Homo sapiens: one gene and its partner. The protein of the gene in region 1 purifies or fractionates together with the protein of each later gene. This does not show direct contact. Each region holds a gene or a part of one and is shown on either strand. Other genes may lie near its edges.

Evidence for each region.
Region 2: the proteins of SHC4 (region 1) and NTRK2 purify together in Homo sapiens (affinity purification with western blotting, with the first as the bait; one study listed by BioGRID). This does not show direct contact.

Annotation. Positions count from the first base shown.
Region 1 is NC_000015.10:48,956,199-48,961,910, reverse strand, and holds part of SHC4 (SHC-transforming protein 4), read left to right. Parts: intron 1-5,712. UniProt on the Homo sapiens protein: Activates both Ras-dependent and Ras-independent migratory pathways in melanomas. Contributes to the early phases of agrin-induced tyrosine phosphorylation of CHRNB1.
Region 2 is NC_000009.12:84,725,229-84,729,834, reverse strand, and holds part of NTRK2 (BDNF/NT-3 growth factors receptor isoform a precursor), read right to left. Parts: intron 2,182-4,606; coding exon 1,876-2,181; intron 1-1,875. UniProt on the Homo sapiens protein: Receptor tyrosine kinase involved in the development and the maturation of the central and the peripheral nervous systems through regulation of neuron survival, proliferation, migration, differentiation, and synapse formation and plasticity.

The DNA of each region.
Region 1 (5,712 bases):
AACCTTGTGCCAGGAGCTAGTCTTAGCTCTCCGGTGCACATTTATTGCCTTTACTGCCTACGCTGCAGCAAGTAGGCCTTGTCCATGAGCTATGGGCAAAATCAAGGTCCTTACTGGCCTTGTATCTGTCCTTGCTCAGTCAAGATGTGGGCAAATGAAGATTTGGCCTGTGCCCTTTTGCAGCTCAGATTTCAATGAGATCAATGAATACATGCGAAATACTAAGATAATAATACTTAGCAATAGATAGCTAATATGAGAATGCTGAGGGAATTCAGAAAAAAGGAAAGATTATGTGATCTGGGATTCATTCACATGGGGAACCCTCAGGAGAAGATGAATCTTGGAAGAAATGTCAGATCTGGGTTGGCAGAAAGGAGGGGATTCCTGGTAGGCCAAGAATAGGAGCAAAGTCACTGTGGTGGCTGCAGGGGAGCATCACACAGGCTGGGCCTTATGGAGGAGGAAGGGGAATGCTGGAGAATAGTGGGTGACTGAGGGAGGGGGTGGCTTGTAGTACTCAAACAAGTATGAGTTGAATAAAGACAAATAGAGATCACGGGTAGCTTGGGAGACCGAAGTTGACTGAAGCTCTTAAATGCCAAATGAGGAGATTGTAAATACTGTGATTGATAAATGAGAATCCTCCTAGGTTTGTAGGGCATGACTTGCTGAAAGTAATTTTTAAAAGACCAGTTGGTTGATTTATTTGACATGGATTGAAGCAGGGAAAAATTAGAGACTTGGAGGACAGTAAGAAAGATACTCTGAGAGTTTAGGTATGAGGCAATGAGAACACTGATTAAGGTGGAGAGGAGAGAAAGGAGGTGAATGGTAAGGCATTCTGTGACAGAAGAATGAGAGAAGCCTCAACAACCCTGGGAGATTAAGCAGATCATTTCAAATCATAATATAACTAATAGAGTAGTGAACATTTATGGAGCAGTGGGTAGATTGATTATTTTGTTACCATTGTTGTTTATTGGGGTTGTGATTGATTATTGATGGAGGGTTGTAAAGGGTGAAAAAAAAACTTTCAAATTGAAGTCTCAGAATGACATCAGTGATGCCAATGACTGAAGCAGAGTAAATTAGGAAATGGACTCATTTTAAGTTTGTTTTTGACATATTAAATTTAATGTAATTATTTGTAAATAATGCTAATATGTAGGTAGACAGTCATATAAAACTAGCACTCAGGCGAGATGTCTGATCTGAAGGTATAGAGAGCTAGCCCAAGAACTGTATTACAGACAATTAGGATCTCAGTATTACAAACAGACAATTAGGATCTCAGGGAAGTTCAAATAATAAACACTGGAAGGGTTACAGAGAGAGCAGGCTTGGGCAGTCCTGGCAAATGGGTAACTAAAACCTCTAAAGCAGATAAATGTATGGGACATGCAGCTCTCGCCCTCACCCACAGTGACATGGCACATAATGGAAATATTTTCATGTTTCTACTCAAAGTTCATGGGCATATTCTCATTTATCAAGATTAGGTGTGTGCCAGGCCCTCATGGGAAAACGAGTGAGTCTCCAAACCTGGGCTCTCTGCACTTGCCTTACCATCACCTACACATCCTCTAGCCTCTGCCTCAGCTTTCCTTTCCTCTTGTACCTCCTGCAACCTCCCCATACCCACACACCTGTACAATTTTAAATGTGAAAAGAGTTGCTGTGTGATCTCCAGTTTCCCTAGGGAGTGCCTCCTCTGGCGTTTTAGATTTTTAATGGGGGCACCATCTGTCTTTTCATGGCAATAATCACTGACTCCAGAAAAAGTGCTGACCCCACGACCCAAATGAACCTCACAAGATTGCCGATATCCGTGATGTCCGATACAAGCTAATGACATCTCTTATGAAGTCAAAATACGTGAAAGAACTTACTTATTAAGTTTTATAGAATCCTAACTTTGAAAGACGGAAGACTCAGAAGTTATCAAGGTCAATTCCTTAATGGTGAAACCAAACCCCAGGTTTTTCAAAGGCCACACAGATGAGTTAAAGCAGAGTGAGATCTAGAGCCCAAATCTCCTGTGTGCCATTCTTATCTGTCTTCACCACAGGTTTCCATCCTGGTTGTTGTTCTGTTCCTCAGAATTCTTTTGAGATGTGAACCAATTTTGAAAAATGAAATGCTAAGCTATTAATTTACAGTAAAAATATCATACCAAATGAACCAAAGTTGTGAGCTCTGTATTCCCATCTGTAGGAAAAAGCACATAAAAAATTTTAAATCAAACCTTGCTTGGTAATAATGGATTCATAGGAGAGAACTGAGAGAAAGATGATCTTAATGGCTAGTTGACACAGGGCTGGTGGATTTAGGGGCAAAGTTTACAGGAAAAAAGCCACTTCATATTCTACCTTCTTATCCATATCATGTGACTGCTCCTCTCCCTGCCCCAACTTATTTGCTAATCCATTCATCCATTTATTTAACAAATATGTATTATGAATCAATTATGCAGCAGGAACTGTTCTAGGCACTGGGCATCCATGAACAAAATGAATCAGTTCTAAGCATCAGTAAACAAAAGAGACCAGGTCTGAATCATTGTGAAATATTTTAGTGAGCGGAGATAGGTTCAATTGAATAAATGAAAAAATATACTATTTCAGATGGCATTAAGTGCTATGGAGAGCAATAAAGTGGGGTAAGTGAAAAAGGCAGTAGCTTGGGTGGGAATGGAAGGCATATTACTCTTGGGTAAAAAGTGGGATTGTTATAGCTACTCTTTACTTTGTTTTCTTGCATATTTTCTCTTTATGATAGGGACTATATTTTTCATCTGCGCTAAGCTAGAGTTGACTTTGGGTTAAATATTCTTTTTAAAAAATGGTTCTTCATTTGGTCTTATGATGTAGAATAAATTATATAGCTGAAAACACTTTATGAATCCTGACCACCTGTTTTGAGTAACTTTAATTGAAGCTCAGACTTTGGACCACCTGAAGGTCTCTCAGGGAAGGGGGCCTAGCAAACCATTCTTTGAAAGATATTGAGCCAGAAATAGGACAGTGAGATCCCAGTCTGGGCAAAGTAGTGAGGTGGGCAAAGCCCATTAAATGGTGTCAAATGTGACTTCATTCTCCCCATAAGACTGAGTCTCCTTTCTTTAGAGGCCTTTCCAAGTCCATTCATCCATCAGCAGACATTCATTTAAAGGTCTCCCAGGTGCCCAACATAGTGGGGAATGTGGAAAATCTACAACGTGACAGTGTTCTCCTCTTTAAAATGAGAGAATTGGCTTGAAAGCCCCCTCGCAGCACCAGTATTTAATGAATGTAGGGTTCCTTTCTCACACGGGAGGTGTTGAAAATGTTAGTTTCCTTTCCAATTCTCAACTTGGCTCAAAGACTTAATAAAGCAGAGGCAAAGAAACCAACCTTGACGAGCTTTGGCAGGTAACTGCAGTGGCCCTCACCACAACCCCCTGAGGAAGGCCGTGTTCTCCAGGTGAGGACACTGAGAGCCCAGGTGTCTGTGATCCACAGGATACTTCACAACTAGTAAGTAGCAGACTGAGGATTCCTAACCAGGTGTGTCTCACTCCAATGTTCCTCCACTTCCCAACCTCTCACTTGCCTCCAAGCAAGACAGGCAGCCTCTGAAGTATGGGAATGGAGTAGCGTAGATGAGAGGCCACACTGTGCAGGATAGCCTCATCATAGGACCAGCCCATGGAACTTGCCTTGTGATATGCATTTGCATGATTTCAGTCTCTTCACTTCAGCCCAGCCCAGCCAACTGTTTCCCAGATCGCATTAGTTTCCTAGGGCTTCTGTAACAAGTCCCACAAACTGCGTGGCTTACTACTATAGAAATCGATTCTCTCACAGTTCTTGAGGCTGGACGTCTGAAATCAAGATATCAGCCAAGTCACGCTGTCTCTAAAAGCTCTAGGGGAGGAATCTTAGAGCTCTTCCTTGTCTCTTCTAGCTTTTGGCAGTTGCCTGCAATTCTTGGTGCTCCTTGGCTTGTAGATGCATCACTCCAATCTCTGCCTCTGTCTTCACATGCATTCTCTCTGTGTGTCCATGGCCAAATTTCCCTCTTTTTTATAAGAACATCAGTCATTGGATTAGGGCTCACTCTCATCTAATATAATCTCATCTTTATTTGATGACATTTGCAAAGACCCTATTTCCAAAGAAGGTCACACTCACAGGTTCTGAGGGTTAAGACTTGGGCATATCTTTTTTGGTGGACATAATTCAACCCAAAACAGTCCCCAAGAGCATTTATTGCAATGTGTTTGCTCACATGGGCCTTCTTGGGTATCAAGCTCATCAGCTTTGTGTGCAAATAGAAATTTGTGTTGAAAGATTTTCTTTACTTCCTTTATAAATCCCACAGTATACTCTTACCATCCGTCTTCTCCTGTCTAAGGTATCTTATCACTGACCCAGTAAACTAGTATTGTCAATCATCTGTTGTCTAGACTAGATGTAGTCCACAGTACCACAATGTTACATCTACCTCAAGTAGCTTTTCCATAGGAGAATACAGGTCTAGGAGTTTGGAGACGTGCATTGAAGTAACGGCTCTGACACTAAGCTGTGTGATCTTGGGTGGGTCACTTCACCTCTGTGGGCCTCATTTTCTCATATTTAAAAGAAGTTTCAGCCAGGCACAGTGGCTCATGCCTGTAACCCCAGCACTTAGGGAGGCTGAGGCACGCATATCACTTGAGGTCAGGAGTTCGAGACCAGCCAGGCCAACATGGTGAAACCTCATCTCTACTAGAAATACACAAATTAGCCGGGCATGTTTGCATGCACCTGTACTCCCAGCTACTTGGGAGGCTGAGGTGGGAGGATTGCTTGAACCTGGGAAGTGGAGATTGTAGTGAGCTGAGATCATGCCACTACACTGCAGCCTGGGCGACAGAGCAAGACTCTGTCTCAAAAAAAAAAAAAAAAAAAAAGAAAGAAAGAAAGAAAGAAAGAAAAAGAAAAAAAGAAGAAGAAGTTTGAACAAAATGCTGCTTAAAATCCTGAGACTCCAGGTCTTCTTTCCTACCTGTTTGAAACCCCTTATTATTAGGATCTCTTTTGGTTAGAAAGAGTTACCTTGAGGAAATAATGTTTATCCACTTTATGTTAGCAGAGAAGAGAAAGAATGTCCTTCAGGGATGCATTCACTTCTATTTTAGCACCCTCTTACTAACACTGAGCTGGCTTCACCAGTAAGGCAGAAAGGAGGGTGTTATACTGGCATGGGTGGAGGCAGTAAGTTTTAGAGAGATGGAGGGTGGTAGAACAGCATCCAAGAGTAGAATTCCAGGGAGGGGTGAAGGGTGGGCTAGTTCGGGGGCAGGCCAGGGTTGGAAGAGGTGAGCGATAGTGGATGGGATTGTGGGAACATGGCATTCCTCATGTGTCTGGCCAGCTAGGTCTGACTGGACTTGGTGTCCAACAGGAGGACTGCAGAAGTGACAGAAATTAAGCCATCTCTATTTTCTCTGGACAAAAGAGCCAAGAGAAAAAGGCCTTGCCACACACATAGCCTGGTAACTCTAACCTTGAAAGAGGGAGATTTGTGACTCCAGGAGACTCCTGGAGAGACAGTCCCATGGTTTACACAATGAAGCCAGACCTGGGTCGCTCAGGTACCCACAGCAAAGAAACATGGCTTTCTGCCTTTGTAAATTTCCTTCTTTTCTAAGTTATTGGTGGTTGAGAGGGAGGTAGTATGGATGGG
Region 2 (4,606 bases), on another chromosome or scaffold:
TACACCAACAGTACTGTGCATTGATATCAAAAGACTCAGACCACTTCTGACAGCTTTTCACTGCAGACCTTCACTCTGAATCAAGTTTTGCCCCCAAGAGTTTCAAAGGGCCACTGGTGAAATTCAAATAAGTCTGAAGTTCAGTTGTTAGTAATGTACCAATATTAGTTTCTCATTTGTGACAAATGTACCAAAGTAATGTAAGATATTAACAATGGTGGGGGAGGTGATAAGGCTGTGAACGCTCTATACTATCTTTGCAACTTTTCTACAGATCTAAAATTATTCAGAAATAAAAAGTTTATGTAAGAACAAGCAAAAAGCTACTGTCCTAAATCAGTGTCTCTGGATTTAACTGTGAAGCTATTATTCCCTCAAACATGACTTCCTGCACACTGCAAGCTAGGGATTTACTGCAGCAACCATAGCCAAGCAGCTAAACTCTCAATTAAGAGGAAGATTTAATGGAAAAGACAGCAACAGCCAGGGGTGTCTGGGTTTTGCATCCAAATATTGCTTGTTTTATGTGCTCCTGAAGGGCTACTGTTTATAAATCAAACACATATTCCAAATCACATTTTGAATATACTAAGCAAGCTTGTGCATTTAAAAAGAGGTCTAGTGAAGAGCAAAATAATAGGAACTTATCATGTAATGAGAAGGACTGCATTCTTGTTTATTGTTTTGCAGAGATGGCTTTGCATGGATCACCTTTGCTGGTGGGGGGGCCCTGGGAGCCACACAGGTACATGCAGCCCAAGCAGCCCCTGCCTTACAAGTCTCCCCAGGGTTCTATTTTCCCTTCTCTCCACCAAGTCATCTTTGCATGACTTTGACTGACTCAGAGCTACTCTGATGAGGAACTCTATTCATGTACAGCTCCCAACATCCAAACACAGGCCTTGGCCACCACATTGGTAGCAAGCATTTGGGCAATGAGACTGAGTAGGTAAGAACACTCCACTGAAGGACAGCATCTGAAGCAGGTAAATGCATGACACTTGTCCCACTGTTCCTGAAGCTCACACTGACACGCTCCTGCTGTGCCCAGAGTAGACCCCTGATGCTAGCCATCCTTTCCGCAGTCCTAGCCTTTGGCCAGAGAAGCACTATTACCACTCCTAGGAAAACAGCTCCGGAGCCAATAAAAGAATCACTCAGCTCAGTCAGCCCGGGTAAGCAAAACAGTCCAAGACACTAATTTCTCATCCATGGATGAGAAACCAGAATTCTCCTTTTTGAATTAGGTAAGAGGCTAGAAAATAAATCTTAAATGCATCACGAGCCAACCATACACAGTTCCTGCGCTTGCGGTTTTGCATGGGTTTTGCCATTGTGGGTACAAAATCTCATTAAATACTTGCAACAGTGATGGAAATAATAATAATAACCCTTTTCTCATAAGATACCCAAGCATCCTGGAGTAGTTATTAATCCAGTGTGTATCAGATAACTGTTCAAAATTATTAATTTCCTCATCACCTTCTTGGGAGGAGTACAACTCCCTGCCCCTTAACTTGGCTTTGGCCCTGTGACTTGCTTTGGCCAATGGCAGATAAGCTGAAGAGACAGTCCAGTGCACCAGCCCTGAATCTAGGCCTTAGGAAGCCTCACATCGTTGCAGTTGTCCTCTTTCACTCCACACTTATCATAACAGGCACATCTCCTATGTAGCTGCTGCTTCATGACCCTGAATTCCACAATAAATACATGCAAAATAAAACCACTCCGCTGACCTATGGATCCATGAGCAACACTAAATAATGGAGTTTTAAGCCACTAGGTTGGGGGATGGCTTATTGTATACATGATTTTGTCAACAGGTGAATGATAGACTTTATCTTCTCCCCACATACAAAAGTGTCAGTTACTCACCATCGTCAATTCCAGGCCAGCCCATGAAGTGAGCAGAAATCTGTTTCTCATCCTTCCCATACTCATTCTTGGCTATTAGAGTGTAGTCCCCATTGTTCATGTGAGTGGGATTATCCAGCTGGAGGCAGCCGTGGTACTCCGTGTGATTGGTAACATGTATTTTAGTACAGATGTATTTGGACTCATTCAATATTGCCCCGTTATAGAACCACTGAAGCGCTGGTTTGGGGTTGCCTTTCACAGTGAATGGAATGCACCAGTGGTGGTCTGAGGTTGGAGATTCGAGAAATGTGATAGTTGGTGCAACTAAATTGAAAAAGAGAGAGTTAATAGCATCAGAAAGCTCAGAATTCTCCCCATCTCGAGATGTCTGTGTCATTGATAGGGAATTTTACTCAACCATTGTTTGGCTTAGAAAAACACATCATCAGAAACTCTGGAATCCATCAGTATTTTGTATCATCATCAGGGTGGATGTAACTCCCCAAAGAGAGCTTCAGAGAGACTCCTTTCTCTGTTCTACTTAAGACCCCTGCATTACAGTCATTTCTCAAATCTATTCAGTATAAGTGAAAACCAGCTCCAAACAGATCCAAGAGATTTCTGACAGCGGAAAGAGTTCATTTGAAGTTGACTTTGGTTTCTAATATCTGTATCTTGATATTATACAGATTCATCACCAAAAAAACTCAAAATAATAAAATAATGAATACTTTTTGATAGCACTTCTTTCCTAAATAACAAAAATGACTTTTAAAATTTTGCCTGAAGCCCTGATCTCACATAACTTCGAAAACAGATCAAACTGATCAATGCAATAAATGTTGCTGCTGATGATGAATTATTATAAATATAACAAATCAACATTTATTACTGATTGTCAATAGTAAATACTCTTTGAAAGTATCACATTTCATGATAGTGTTGTCCATTTTTGCTAGGATCCTAGATGCCAATGTTTAGATCTTTTAAATGTTTGGGGTCCAATCTAAGCCTGGACAGAGTAGGGATTATTTCAACTTTAGATATAAAGCACTTTATGCTTTGGGGAAACAAACATTATCAAGTAGAATTTTTAAACAGAGTACTTATCCTAAGTGAGGGTATTTAAAATGCTTCATCTGTTCATTTTAATGTAGTCTGGCTTTGGTAATTACAAAATCAAGGACTGGAAAAGACCTTTGAGATCTAATAGCATCATTTTTTTCAGATGAAGAAACCAAAGTGCAATGAGGTTAAGTGAGCTCATCAAGGTTACTGAGCAAGGCAGATCTGGAACAAGAATCTTGAATCCTGATGTTTAATACAGTGGCCCTTCCCTCTCAGGCACTGCTTCTTGACTGTATGTGTTCATCAAACAAGAGGAGAAAAAAATCTAAGGTATTGTAGCCAGGGAACAGACAAACCCTCTGAGTGGGGTCTCTGCACTGGTTATCTTGGTTGTTAATATTTTTAGTTTGTTTTTTGTTTTTTTAGACAGATTCTCACTCTGCCACCCAGGCTGGAGTGCAGTGGCACGATCACAGCTTACTGCAACCTCTGCCTCCCAGGTTCAAGCGATTCTCATGCCTCAGCCTTCCGAGTAGCTTGGATTACAGGCGCCTGCCATCGTGACCGGCTAATATTAGTATTTCTAGTAGAGACGGGGTTTCATCATGTTGCCCAGACTGGTCTTGAACTCCTGATCTCAAGTGATCCACCCGCCTCGGCCTCCCAAAGTGCTGGGATTACAGGCGTGAGCCACCACACCCAGCCAGTTGTTAATATTATTTATAATTTATTGCTTCTGCTCTTTGTCTAAACTATGACAGATAAGGTCAATTTTTCAGAGCCTAGTGACCATACAGATATTAACCTGAAACTGAGAAAAAAACTCAAGTTTGGATATTTTTAATAGAAAGCAGGTAATCTGATATTACCCCCTTACTTGTATTCAGGTAAATCCTCCCACAGTACTACCTAGGAAGAAGCAAAGCCGATAAAAGGACCCAATTCACTTTCATAATTTACGGAAAGATTTCCAGTTACCAGTGACATTCCTCTCAACTGAGCACCTGTGCAGCTGAACTCTGCACATGTATGTTGTGACTATGTCCCTCACTCTGAGAAATGTGATATTACTAAATTTAAATGGGCAAAGTTTAATTGTTTGCTTTACCAAATATCTCTCACAGGCCTCCTTAAAATAGTCTTTGGAAAACAAAAGTTTTTAATATGTGACTTCATCTATAAAAATTCAATTAAAATATAATTTGGGGAGACCCTATATATATTATACATATGCATATATATATACATAATATATATATAATATATATAATGTACATATATATATATTACACAAAATAAGGTCCATACATGTGTAGATACACACACTTGTAGACCTGTGCTATGAACCAACCACTACAAGGACCACAGTGGGGCAGGGGCCACACTTACCTTCCTCCCACCAGCCCAGGTCCCCACACCCAGGGCCCATCATTCCTTCCACCATGCTCAAATGAATTTTGGGTTAGGTGCTGATTTAAGGACATACAGTTGAAAGTGCTTGCATATGTTTGGAGATAACATTGACTTCAGGCTTCTGAGTGGGTCAAAATGATGAGAAATTATGAGTTTAGTACCCACTGGGCATAGTGATTGTACTAACAATGATAAAGGATTACAGCTGATGATTTCAATCATTCACTCCAGCAATCACACACTGAATGTGTGCTATGAGTGAGTGTTA